4 linked regions of the Homo sapiens genome follow. The protein of the gene in region 3 interacts with the protein of the main gene of each other region in a biochemical or structural test. Each region holds a gene or a part of one and is shown on either strand. Other genes may lie near its edges.

The links. Proteins that work in one complex are often made in the same cells at the same time.
Region 1: the proteins of PLEKHG7 (region 3) and PALS2 interact in a test that uses a peptide from one of them, tested with the Homo sapiens proteins (one large-scale study listed by IntAct).
Region 2: the proteins of PLEKHG7 (region 3) and FRMPD3 interact in a test that uses a peptide from one of them, tested with the Homo sapiens proteins (one large-scale study listed by IntAct).
Region 4: the proteins of PLEKHG7 (region 3) and FRMPD4 interact in a test that uses a peptide from one of them, tested with the Homo sapiens proteins (one large-scale study listed by IntAct).

What each region holds. Positions count from the first base shown.
Region 1 is NC_000007.14:24,674,436-24,677,991, reverse strand, and holds part of PALS2 (protein PALS2), read right to left. Parts: intron 1-3,556.
Region 2 is NC_000023.11:107,456,136-107,459,691, forward strand, and holds part of FRMPD3 (FERM and PDZ domain-containing protein 3), read left to right. Parts: intron 1-3,556.
Region 3 is NC_000012.12:92,758,456-92,762,011, forward strand, and holds part of PLEKHG7 (pleckstrin homology domain-containing family G member 7), read left to right. Parts: intron 1-3,296; coding exon 3,297-3,376; intron 3,377-3,556.
Region 4 is NC_000023.11:12,704,957-12,708,512, forward strand, and holds part of FRMPD4 (FERM and PDZ domain-containing protein 4), read left to right. Parts: intron 1-1,869; coding exon 1,870-1,959; intron 1,960-2,512; coding exon 2,513-2,695; intron 2,696-3,556. UniProt on the Homo sapiens protein: Positive regulator of dendritic spine morphogenesis and density. Required for the maintenance of excitatory synaptic transmission. Binds phosphatidylinositol 4,5-bisphosphate.

The DNA.
Region 1 (3,556 bases), on a different chromosome or scaffold from region 3:
ATAAAAAGATGACAGTGTTTTGACTATTTCTAATAAGCCTAAGACATAGAAAACTTTTATAAGAACAAAATGAACTTCAAACTCATGCTCAAAAATAAGGGTCAAATGAGATCATTATGTATAATAGGACTCCTGTTTTCCCCTTGTTTTCTGGCTCAACCTTGAGAGTGGTCGTCTTAGACTACTGTGAAGAGTATTTATAAAGTATCTTTGAGAATCTTCAAGATGCTATGATGGCTTTTCATATTTAAAACTGTGTGATCTTTAAGGTTTCTGGAATTAGTCACCAAAGGTGTGTATAATAAAACTTCTCAATAAATGTAATCCAGCATATAAACAGAACCAAAGACAAAAACCACATGATTATCTCAATAGATGCAGAAAAGGCCTTTGACAAAATTCAACAGCCCTTCATGCTAAAAACTCTCAATAAATTAGGTATTGATGGGACGTATCTCAAAATAATAAGAGCTATCTATGACAAACCCACAGCCAATATCATACTGAATGGGCAAAAACTGGAAGCATTCCCTTTGAAAACTGGCACAAGACAGGGATGCCCTCTCTCACCACTCCTATTCAACATAGTGTTGGAAGTTCTGGCCAGGGCAATTAGGCAAGAGAAGGAAATAAAGGGTATTCAATTAGGAAAAGAGGAAGTCAAATTGTCCCTGTTTGCAGATGACGTGATTGTATATCTAGAAAACCCCATTGTCTCAGCCCAAAATCTCCTTAAGCTGATAAGCAACTTCAGCAAAGTCTCAGGATACAAAATCAATGCATAAAAATCACAAGCATTCTTATACACCAACAACAGACAGAGAGCCAAATCATGAGTGAACTCCCATTCACAATTGCTTCAAAGGAATAAAATACCTAGGAATCCAACTTACAAGGGATGTGAAGGACCTCTTCAAGGAGAACTACAAACCACTGCTCAACGAAATAAAAGAGGATACAAACAAATGCAAGAACATTCCATGCTCATGGGTAGGAAGAATCAATATCGTGAAAATGGCCATACTGCCCAAGGTAATTTACAGACTCAATGCCATCCCCATCAAGCTACCAATGCCTTTCTTCACAGAATTCGAAAAAACTACTTTAAAGTTCATATGGAACCAAAAGAGAGCCTGCATCACCAAGTCAATCCTAAGCCAAAAGAACAAAGCTGGAGGCATCACACTACCTGACTTCAAACTATACTACAAGGCTACAGTAACCAAAACAGCATGGGACTGGTACCAAAACAGAGATACAGATCAATGGAACAGAACAGAGCCCTCAGAAATAACGCCGCGTATCTACAACTATCTGATCTTTGACAAACCTGAGAAAAACAAGCAATGGGGAAAGGATTCCCTATTTAATAAATGGTGCTGGGACCACTGGCTAGCCATACATAGAAAGCTGAAACTGGATCCCTTCCTTACACCTTATACAAAAATCAATTCAAGATGGATTAAAGACTTAAACGTTAGACCTAAAACCATAAAAACCCTAGAAGAAAACCTAGGCGTTACCATTCAGGACACAGGCATGGGCAAGCACTTCATGTCTAAAACACCAAAAGCAATGGCAACAAAAGACAAAATTGACAAATGGGATCTAATTAAACTAAAGAGCTTCTGCACAGGAAAAGAAACTACCATCAGAGTGAACAGGCAACCTACAAAATGGGAGAAAATTTTCCCAACCTACTCATCTGACAAAGGGCTAATATCCAGAATCTACAATGAACTCAAACAAATTTACAAGAAAAAAACAAACAACCCCATCAAAAAGTGGGCGAAGGACATGGACAGACACTTATGCAGCCAAAAAACACATGAAAAAATGCTCACCATCACTGGCCATCAGAGAAATGCAAATCAAAACCACAATGAGATACCATCTCACACCAGTTAGAATGGCAATCATTAAAAAGTCAGGAAACAACAGGTGCTGGAGAGGATGTGGAGAAATAGGAACACTTTTACACTGTTGGTGGGACTGTAAACTAGTTCAACCATTCTGGAAGTCAGTGTGGCGATTCCTCAAGGATCTAGAACTAGAAATACCATTTGACCCAGCCATCCCATTACTGGGTATATACCCAAAGGACTATAAATCATGCTACTATAAAGACACATGCACACGTATGTTTATTGCGGCATTATTCATAATAGCAAAGACTTGGAACCAATCCAAATGTCCAACAATGATAGACTGGATTAAGAAAATGTGGCACATATACACCATGGAATACTATGCAGCCATAAAAAATGATGAGTTCATGTCCTTTGTAGGGACATGGATGAAATTGGAAATCATCATTCTCAGTAAACTATCGCAAGAACAAAAAACCAAACACCGCATATTCTCACTCATAGGTGGGAACTGAACAATGAGAACACATGGACACAGGAAGGGGAACATCACACTCTGGGGACTGTTGTGGGGTGGGGGGAGGGGGGAGGGATAGCACTGGGAGATATACCTAATGCTAGATGACGAGTTAATGGGTGCAGCACACCACCATGGCACATGTATACATATGTAACTAACCTGCACATTGTGCACATGTACCCTAAAACTTAAAAGTATAATAATAAGAGGGGAAAAAAAAAAACCTTAAAAAAATAAAAAAATAAAAAAACTTCTAAGGCAACTTGTAACTCCCCAAATAAATGCATAATAGGACTTGGTTCAACATTGTGAACATTAATTTTAAAAATTAATGTTTTTTCGGTGAAGTCCTACAGTGAAACCATATAGGGGAATGCGCTGCTTGAAATAAATATGTATATGCACATGTATTACCTCTACCTCCATGCTGAGGGAATCTTAATTCTTAGAGAAATGTTCTTTAGTTTACAAGTGAATTTTAACTACAATCCTATTCTCTACTAACACTTCAAAAAACAATCTACGTTGCCACATATTTAAACTGCTTTCCATTTCTAGAACAGAGAAATTAGAACATGAAGGTTTGACTACAACTGATTCCTTAGACTTCTATACTGCGCAACTACATAATGTGATTTTTTAGAAGTAATTTTTTATGATAGGCAAAATTCTCAATTTTAGCTGCTCTTCAAATAATGAAGACACAATCAACAAAGTAATACTTCATTTGTTAACTAAGCTCAAGATGTCAAGATGTCAATGTTAAATTGAAAACAGGATGCATAACATAGCCCATCTCCCTAAAATAACAATGTTTTTCTATTTTATCTTAGGATCATTTTGTAATATATAAAGAAAGTTAAATCACCTTAATTTTATAACAGAAAATTTTAGAAATTCAAAAATATATGGAAAATAAGCAATATACTCCCAAATAACCAATGGATCAAACAAGCAATCACAAGTGAAAGAAAATACTTTGAGAGGAGATGGTGCTGTTGAAGAGCACAGTTACAGACAGAGCTGACCAGGCTCTTCCAGAGTGCCAGTTGTCCAGCAGCATGTTCATTACCCTGAAGATGTATGATGGTTGAACTAAACCCATTCATTCTAAGAAAAGGTTCTGTGGAGGGCTTTAAGCCCTTGATAATTGTCTTAAAAGCTACTG
Region 2 (3,556 bases), on a different chromosome or scaffold from region 3:
TCACTGTAGCCTCAAACTCCTGGGCTCAAGTGATCCTCCCACCTTAGCCTCTCGAGTTGCTAGCTAATTTTTAGTGTTTCATAGAGACAGGGTCTTGTTGTGTTGCCTAACCTGGTCTCCAATTCCTGGGCTCAAGCAATCCTCCCACTTCAGCCTCCCAAAGCACTGGGATGACAGGCATGAGCCACTGTGCCCAGCCTGTCTTTACTTTTTCTTATAAATATTTTCAACCTCAAAAAAATTAGAGAAAATAGTATAGTAACCCCCACATACTCATTATCCACATTAACTAGTTATCAGGACTTTGCCATGTTTGCTTCACCTATCATGCCAAACATCGATCACATCATTTTATTCCTAATATTTCTCTATGCATTTCTTAAAAACTGGACATTTTCTAACATAACTACAGAACTGCTAATACACCTAACAAAAGTAACAATAATGCCTTTGTATTATCCATTACCCTGTCCATAATCATATGCCCTCAATTGTCTCAAAACATGTTTTACAGTTGGCTTGTTTGACGGACGTTCCAAAAAAGTTCCACACGTGACATTTGGTTGTTATGTCTCTAAAGGCCCTTTCAACAGCCCTCTCTCTTTGACTTGTCACAGAAATCAGGTTGTTTGCTCTGCACAATTCCCACATTCTGGTTTGTCCTCTTATTGCCAGTTAGCTTGTTCACCTATCCCCTATATTTTCTATAAATGGAAGTTAGCTCTGGGCTTGATTAGATTCAAGCTCATTTTTCTTTTTTTCTCGCTTTGGCATAATGATTAAAACAAGATCATTCTGGAGGCAGGAAGACCAGTTAGCCGGTTGTTACCATAGCTGGTTGGGGACAGAAAGAAGATGGGTGAATGTATTTGGAGGTAGAGGAAACCTGATTTACCTACCAATTGAATGCGTGGGGTGAGGAAGAAGGAAGAGTCAAAGATGATTCTAAGGCTTTGAGCCTGCATAACCAGGAGGGTACCAATGTCATCCTATGAGAAGGATGAGTTTTTAATGAGAGCAGCAGGTATCATGGTTAGATTAAAGGAGGAACTTTCTCACTTTCTCACAGTAAGAGGCCATCTGCTCTGTTTTTTTTTTCCAGATAATACTATCTTTCCCAGAAAAAAATTTGATTCGTGGTATAGCTAAACATTTGATAATGTTTGGAAAACATTTGGAAAGGGACTCCGTATTTTTTGTTAACTGCAAATAGTTAAATTTCCAGCTCCAGGGCCTTGAGAGGGAGGATAGTATATACAATTCTGGATAGAGAGAAGGTAATGCTGATATCTCCCTTGCAGATGAGCCTACTGTCCCATATCATCATGGGTTTCTGAGTCATCAGGCTTGGGTAGGAGAGTGTAGGATGCCAGAACCTGGGATTTCTCTAGACACAGCCAATGAGCATAGCTCAAGATCCATGTCTTTCCTTGATATTGGCTGAAGTCTCTATCCCACACCCACTCTTCCACCCAATATGGAGGCTGTGTGGACCCTCAGTGGACCATGGCAACAGTGTTCTTGCCAAAGTCAAAAATTGCCTAAAAGCCCTGGGATATTCACTGGACTCTGACAAAGCCCCAAGATTATTTCGACACCTCAGTAGGAACTTGCTTAACTCGTTGAATTGGATTAGGTGAGAACTACTCTCAGCTCCATCCCATCATACCCTCCTTCATAAAGGCTTTTCTCTCTCTTCCTTCCCCTAGCTCATCTTTCTTCTTGCTTTTTCTTCTGCTCCCCCCTCCCTGCTCTTTCTCTTCCAGCGTACATTTATTCTCTCAAGTTAATCAAACACTGGCCCCTACAGCCCATTGTGCCTCAGATTGATCACTTAAGTAGCGTTATTGATTGCCCAGAAAACCTTAGGAGGTGGGAGTGTTCTGAAAGCTAGGATCTGACAGCTGATTGGCTGCCTATGTCTCACTCGGCAGCCTCAGCTCCTCTGCCGTCTGGAACATCTTTTGAGAAAGGTGAGGGAATGAACAGCGGAGATCCTTAGCGGGCTTCACTTATCTCATCCTTCCTTCATACTGGAGTTAAGGCATGGGAAGAGAAGTCTATTGACCACTCCAGGATCTAGCCCTGTACTAATGTTATGGTGAGAAGGGGAAAGCAAAGGCCCTGCTCTCTGGAAATCCGTAATTTAACAGAAAAATAATACTCATTCATATGAAGTAACTAAGAATAATACAAGATGGAAAACAATTATGTGCCACATTTTTTTGCTCTAAACAGTAAGCACTGTAGGGGTTCAAAGCACAGAGAGAATGAGAGTGTGGGCTGGAATGAGGGGAGAAGTCTTCCCAGAAGAAGTTGAACCTGCGTTATGTTTTGAGTAACATGTGAGATTGAGATTGTTGACTAGAAAAGGAACAGGCTTCTGAGGGGGAGGCACAGCATAGGGAAAAGGCTGGAGATGGAAATGGTCAGGGTGTTATCAAGAAAGGGTCAGAAAGAAGTCTGACTAGAGGAGAGGGTGTATATGCAGGCACAGTGGGGAAAAAATGATTGGCTGGGTATGGGACTCCCAGATTTGAAGAGTCTCTGATGTCAGAAGAAGTTTGGACTTGGGTAAACCTTGGGGGCTGTCGGACAATTATGCATAGTGATTCAGGATGGTTAGCTATGCAGTTGGAAGCAGAATTGATTGGAATAGGGAGAGACTTGAGACCAGCCTATAAGATACTACAGCAATCTAAGTGAGAGGTGATAAGGGTGGTGGCAGTGGGCATAGAGAGGAGGGTCAAATCCAAAAGGCTCTCAAGGCATCGGTGTGGCTGATAAACCACCAAGTAGATTTTCTTGACTTGTTTTTGTCTCACTCGCTCCTTCCTCTTAGCCTCAATACTTACACTTTCTTTGCCTCATGCCCTCAGGACCTTAAGGTGGCAGAGTTTCTGGAGCTAAGATAACATTGGGCATTATAATCAGTTATCCTTTCCAAGTAAAGTAGATGCGCACAGGGGCCTTCAGTACCATGACCTGAAAGAGTGAGCAATGAGGAATCTGGCTGCAGAATGCAGTTGAGATGATAGCCAAGCTGGGGTGCTGAGTATTACATCCCCCAACAGGGAGGCCGGAGGCAGGCGATGCCTGTGTCTGGTCTGTTTCAAGTCCCCCAAGGCTTCTGAGAGCTGGTAAGAGTGAGGAAACATCTTTCAACTTCCCTGGTAGAATCAGTTTGAAAACTCTTCTGAGCACTTGGGAATCATCTCAGTGAAGGTCACACCTGTGCCAGAGTATGGCAAGAGCTACCACAGCACTTTGATGCCAGCTGGAGCCCTGTTGCAGCTGGTATAAGGAAACTAAGTGAGGAGTCCACAGGTTGATGGGAGAGTCATGGCCAGGGCCTCTGCCTGCTAAATTGCCTCCCCCACCAACTTTCCCCTCCCCACCCAATCCACTGAATATCAGCCCTGGATAGGTGTCTGGGCCAGGTCTGCCAGCCCTGGATTGGAGGGAAATAGAGAACTGCAGATAAAGGGATATTTGTGAGATTTTAGTCTCCTTTTACTTGTTCTTCTTGTGGGAGCATATGATGCCTTGTAAAGAT
Region 3 (3,556 bases):
TTCAGGTTTGGGCATAATGAGAACCCACATGGAAGCTGGAGGAGCAGCTCCTGGTGGGTGAAAGTCTAAGTCAGATGTGAATTCATGCATCGCATGGGTTCAAAGTGACTGTCATAGATGTATGGGTTGGAAGCTCACCTAAGAAAGACTCTTTACAAACAGACTCAACTTTTCCAGAAAATGCTTCTTGTACAGTCAAATGTGGTAGTATGGACATGAACTACATAATGTCACTAACACCAGGCACTTGTTTAATGGCATATGCTGTATTAGTCAAATTCCATCAGAGATGGAGACTCCATATGATGTAGTCTACATGGCATCAAGCCAAGTGCAAAGTCCTGAGACTGGACTCAGAGTTGAGCATCGAGATTTGATGGGGCAGGGTGATAGTGTTAGAAGAAACAGGACATTTCACTTCTTGGTCTTTTGGCTAAGATCAAGTGAGGAAACAGGACATCATTTTAAATGAAAAAAGCATTGAACCAACAGTCAGGGGATCTAGCACCAATTGTAGGCTTTGGGAAAATTTAAATTCTCTTATTCTCTTTTATAAATGTTATTGCTGCTGCTGATAATGATGATGACAATGAGGATGAAAATGATGTGATGAAACCTAACACATACTGTGTTTCCAAATTTCTCCCAGCCTTAAAAACTGTACTCTTATAATCAAATAAGTATATGTTCTCATTCCCAGAAGGTACACATTTTCATAATTTGTTTCATAACTTACTTGGTGGAAAACTAGGGCCTCAATAAATGGTAGATAAAATAATTACCACTTTCTAGAATAATGTCTGTAACATTATCTAGAATAACATCTGGAATACGTAGAAGGTGTGCTCCCTGCCTGTTTGTCAAAATAAAATAGTTGAAATTAGAAGGAGAAAACAAAACTATTTCATTTTGACAATGATCATTGAGCTGACGCATACATGAGTAGCAGAAGATGGGAATAGCAAATTTTACAGGTTTGAAGGTTGCTGTGGACTGAATTGTGTTCTTCCATTGCTGTGGACTGAATTGTGTTCTTCCACAAATCACATGTTGAAGCCTTAATGTCCAGTATGACTATACTTGGAATAAGGAAGAAATGCAGGTAAAATGAGGGACTCAGGCTGGAGCCTTGATCTGATAGGATTAGTATCCTAATCAGAGCAGACATCAGAGAGCTCACTCTCTCTGTTTGCCATGTAAGAACACATGCAGAAACCCAAAAAGAAAGCCCTTATCAGGAACTGAATCGACCAGCACCTTGATCTACTTCCCAGGCTCCAGAACTGTGAGAAATAAATTCCTATTGCTTAAGCCACCCTGTCTGTGGTATTTTGCTATGGCAGGCTCAGCTGGCTGTTCACAGGTCTAGTGCTGTACCATTCCTAGCCCTGTATATCAGTTGGCATATAGATTCAGCCACTGGAGACGGACAGGTTAAAAAAGATAGTTTATTTCTCTCTTGTTAAGTCTCAACCTATATGACAACTCCACTCCATGAAGTCATTAGGAATCCAGATTCCTGCTGTCTTATTCCCAAATCTAGGGAACTGCCTTCTTCTGTGTGGCCCAAGATGACTCACCAATATGTCTGTATTCTACCCAGTGAGAAGGAGAGACAGAGACAAGAGAGCTTAGCCCTGCCCTTCACGAATATGACTCAGAAGTTGCATGCTTTGGCTCACATTCCATTGGTCAGAATTTAGCTCCTTGGTCATATTCAGCAGCAAGGAAATGTAGTCTCTGTTCTCTGAGGATGGGTACTCACTAAAACTTGGGGATTCTACTGCTACAAGAGAAGGGGAGAATGGTTTTCAAGGGACAACCAGAAGTCTTTGCCACAACTTGATTTATGAAAAGTTAAGTTTTTAATATGATTTTTAAAAAAACTATTCAAGGACTATTTAATTTGAATAAAATACCAGATTTCTCCCCTATGCAAATATAGAAAAAATCTTTTCTCTAAACTTAAAGAATGAGAGGAGATAGAAATGAATCCTAAATGTTTTAGCTACTACTTTAAATCTTCTAGGGGTAAAAACATATAAGAAAGAACTTCTAGAACAATATATATATATAATCTAAATAGAACAAGCTGAAAAAAATTTACTGGGTTTTCCTATGATTACTCTAAGCACTTGTCACATCTCCCTCTAAAAACCTTTTCCTCTGAAATCACTTAAATTTAACCCTTTTTTCTAATTTCTAAGGGATAGAGTAAAATAAGGAAGGAGATGCCTTATTCTGATACTTGGTTTCTCTTCTACTACTATTCCCTTCTTAGGGAAAACTAAAGAAAAGCTATTTGCCTTAAGTAACTATTAAAACTAATATCAGAAAAGTTTGTAAATATGAAACAGATGGAGAATATCTAAACATTTATAGACACTTTCTAAAACTTGAGAAATAAGTAGTTTTAATGACTGTCAACCTAGGCCGCCATAACAAAATATCACAGACAGGCTGACTTAAACAGCAGAAATTTATGTCTTACAATCTGGAGGCTGAAAAGTCCCAGGCCAAGGTGATGGCAAATTCAGTTCCTGATGAGCGCTCTCTTCAAGACAAGGAGTGGGGGATAGGGTGGAGGTATCCGGTGTCTCAAAGAACACTAATGCTACTGGATCAGTGCACCAGCCTTATCACTTCATTTTACCCTAATTACTTTCTTACTCCAAATGCAGCCACCCTAGTGGTTTAGGGCTTCAACATATGAAATTTGAGTGACACAATAGCATAATTCATAGCAGTGAGAAAATGCCTTTTCTCTGGTTATGTGTGCCTTTGCCAATAACCACCCAGAGGAATCTAGAGGCAAAAATGCTGCAAGTTCAATCAGTTGATAGATTTACCCTCGGCTGAGTTGAAGCCACTACAAATAACATCTGAGTTATCTTAGATTCAAATGAGACGCATCATAAATTCAATGTCTTTAATGTTGGAAGCTTGGCCTCTCATCAAGTCTCTGCTTTAGGAAGAAATCAATTCAACATTGAGGCAGGCAGCTTTCTGACCTACATGATTGGAGCCCCTGGGGTGCCGTAATACTCACCCAGTTTTGTTTTCTAAGGAATTCATTGATTAAAAAAAAGAGAGAAAGAAAGAAAGAAGGAAGGAAGGAAGGAAGGAAAGAGAGAATGAAAAGAAAGAAAGAAAAAGAAAGAAAGAAAGAAGAAAGAAAGAAAGAAAGAAAGAAAGAAAGAAAGAAAGAAAGAAAGAAAGAAAGAAAGAAAGGGAAAGAAAAACTCTTCTACTTAACAGTTTCAGGTCCCCATTTCAGCTTCTCTTTTTTTCCTCAGAAAGCACGAGATTCCTAGATGTTTATCTGTTTCTCTTCAATGATTTCCTCTTAGTTACGAAAACTAAGTGCAACAAAAAGGTAAAATGCTGCTATTTCAAAGTACGTTTCTAAACAAGTTTGCTAAATGAGTTTAGAAATATTTCTAAATAAACTGTGGTAAAAATATAAAATATTCTTAAGCTGAATCTTTTCCTCTAAAAAATGAAGGCATTATAAACTATTGGCTTTTTTAGTCATAAAGCTCTGAAGTAAATAAAT
Region 4 (3,556 bases), on a different chromosome or scaffold from region 3:
GTTACGGGGAACATCCTGTGTATTCTGGGATGTTTAGCGGCACCCCTGGTCTCTACCCACAAGATGCCAGTAGCACCCTCCCGTGATCGTGACAAACAAAAATGTCTCCAGACATTGCCAAATGTGCTCCCGGGAACAAAATCACCCCTATTGACAAACAATGGATTCAATCCTACCTTTGGAGGGAAGATAAAATTATTGCTGTCATTCACCATCATTAGTGTTAAAATCTTTTTATGCTTTTGTTTTTGTTTTCATTAAGTAAGAGAAACACAAAGGAAATTTTAAAATATACTGTTGGTCAGAAAAGAGAGGTATAGTTTATAGGTAATAAAAAGCAAAGGATTCCAGGAACCAGAAAGAGAAGGAGCCTTAAAATACTGGATCTATAAAATTGGAAGCAGTCTTATAACTGAAGAACACTTTCCAATTGATATTAGCTGGAGAAATTTGTGTGACTCTAATACAAATCACTGTTTACGTGGAGAACCATTTTGTCTTAGTATCTGATTTTTTTAAGTCATTTTTACTGGGTAAGGTACATTTATTTCTATCCCCTCCTCACCCCACGACAATTTTTTTTTTTAAGTATAATCAGTTTCAACACACTATCAGCCACCTTTAACTCACTTCCCAATTTCATGGGAAGGATGTCTTTGATCACAGTGAGCATTCAGCTTACAGAGATGTAGCAAGATGATGTGGGTCAAGTTCTTTTTAACTTCAGTTCTGATTTGCTGGAAGCTAATTTCTATAATTGACTTGTGATTTTTTTTTCAAGCCTGGCCCACTCGTAATAATTTGGATAACTGCTATAAGATCAATCAACCTATCCATTTATCCATCACTGTCCTTTAAAGGTTGTTTTTCTAGCCAAGAGTGAATAGTTTGCTTTCAAAACAATTTGCAAATGCTTTGCATTTTTGAAAGAAGTAGGATGGATGAATGGTGCTAAGTAACAATTACATAAAGAGCAGTGCCTTTATGTATAGTTAACAAATAAGTTGGCAAGCCATCTGCAAGTGAAAATAGAATTTTATGGTCATTGCCACTTAATGGTGGTCTACACCTTGTTGGAAAATTTCAACCTTAATAAACATCCCTGGCACATTCAGTATGAAACATGGACCTTTTTTTTTTTTAAATCAAATACTCTTTTTAGTGATATGGGATCCTACATTTTTAAGTCTTTGTAAAGATAACTTTTATCTGGATAAAATTTCATTTATAAATCACTTGTGAAACTCAACAGATTTTCCAAGTTGAATTAATAAAACAGAGCCTTATTTAGCAAGTTCAAACATTTCCACAATGATTGGCTCTCAGAAAGTTCATTTCCCCCGAAAACTTGCAAGGACTGGAAGAAACTTGAGAGGGGAAGTGTAAAGGGCCTGTTTAGAAGGCTTTGCCTAGATTGCAGGTGCGTATTCAAAATGATTCCCACAAAGTCTGCATTCAGGTGAGTCTCTTGTGCAATGGGAATATAGGTAGACACCTCACCTTTGTCCCTAATTGCAAGTAGAAGGCCCACTCACCTCTTGAAATCTCCCAGTGAGCAGATGTTCAATGGAACATTTTATGGTCTTGTTCTCACTTGCTGAGTGCCCTGGCCCAGCATATCTATACCCATGAGTGCCCCATACATTGACCCCCTAATAAATAAGATTTGAATCTTGATTTTATGTTCCAGTCCTTCATCAGGAAACCAAATATGTAGCAATTTTATTCCTAATGAATAGTCTTTGTCACATCTCAACTTTTCAGCCGTAAAATCATCCTTCTATCTTACACTTGTTTTCTGCTAGTCTCCAGCTGAAATGGAGTCATACCCAATAGAGTTAACACCTGAGGTTTCTTTTCTCTCCTCAGCTCTCTGCACTACAAGCCAAGGTCCATTATCTCAAGTTCCTCAGTGACCTACGATTGTATGGGGGCCGTGTGTTCAAGGCAACATTAGTGGTAATTTCTTTTTTTTTTTTTTTTTTGCTTTCTCTTGGAAGCCACAGCAGCTCATTCCGCCTCTGATGACAAAAGCAAATCAGCTGTGAATCTTCTCCAGCCTTCATTTCTAACCAACTTCACAACAGTCTGAAAATATCAGAAGAAATGTTAAACTAGATAACACCACTGCAGAATGCCCTAGAAAAAGAAATGTGAAGAACCGAGAGAATCAAAGGATTCTAACAATGGCCTTCTTTTAAATCATTGAGCCAGAAGTTGCTTTCACAGTGAAAAAAGGAAAACCAAAAAGAAAAAAACAAACCTCATTTCTAAAAGGATCTTATGATTATGAACATACTGTGCTATAACATTTACTTTCTAATTACTCATGATTTATCAGAGCCTCAATTCAGTCATGTATCTGGTTCTTCTAATTGGATGATTTAGTACAGTATGACCCAGAAACACTTTCTAAAGAAAATATAATCTTATAAAAATAGGATCATAGGTTCAAGTTGGCATAGCATTTCAGAGGTTCAGTATTTTTATGTTGTCAACTTCTCTTTCTCAGCAGGCAGAAAAGCGCTCGGAAGTGACTCTCCTGGTTGGGCCCCGGTATGGCATAAGCCATGTCATCAACACCAAAACCAATCTGGTGGCTCTTTTAGCCGACTTTAGCCACGTCAACAGGATCGAAATGTTTTCCGAGGAGGAGAGCTTGGTGCGGGTAGAACTCCACGTGCTAGATGTGAAGGCAAGTTTCTCAGGTGTTGACACATGGCCTTGCTGTCAACAGCTAATTTCTGATAACACTGCAGATGTTTACAAGGCAGGCAAAAGTCAATGTGTGCAGAGCATCACAGATGCAATGTGGTGCAGAAAATAATCCACCAACTCAGGCCTGAGGGCTCCAGTCCTCACTAAATCGCTGTGTGATTGGGAACAGGTCGCTATAATTCTCTGCGCTCAATTTTTTTATTCATACGTGAGAAAGCAAGCTACATAATTTCTAGGTCCCTTCTGACTTTAGAATATGTGATTTCTAGGTATAGAGTAGGGGAAACTTTTCTGAACTAACTTTCTAGAATATATGACTCAAATCAAGAGGGAGATTTTTCCCAACTTTCTTTAGAATTCTCACTCCCTTTGCTTACGTTAGGTCCATATGTGTTTATTCTTTTGGAAAAGCTTGATGTTTTAGTTCATCTGTCTTCTCATATGGTAGCAATTGGTACTGACTGAACATCTGGCTCCTATGAATGTCATGGCCATTCCATTTAAAACAAAAATCTGGCCAGGTGCGGTGGCTGATGCCTGTAATCTCAGCACTTTGGGAGGCCGAGGCGGGCGGATCACGAGGTCAAGAGTTCAAGACCAGGCTGACCAACATGGTGAAACCCCATCTCTACTAAAAATACAAAAATTAGCCGGGCGTGGTGGCGTGCACCTGTAATCCCAGCTACTCAGGAGGCTGAGGCAGGAGAATTGCTTGAACCCAGAGGTGGAGGTTCCAGTGAGCCGAGATCGTGCCATTGAACTTCAGCCTGGGTAACAGAGCGAGACTCCATCTCAAAAAAAAAAAAAAAACACAAAAATCTGAGATGGTCCACAAAGG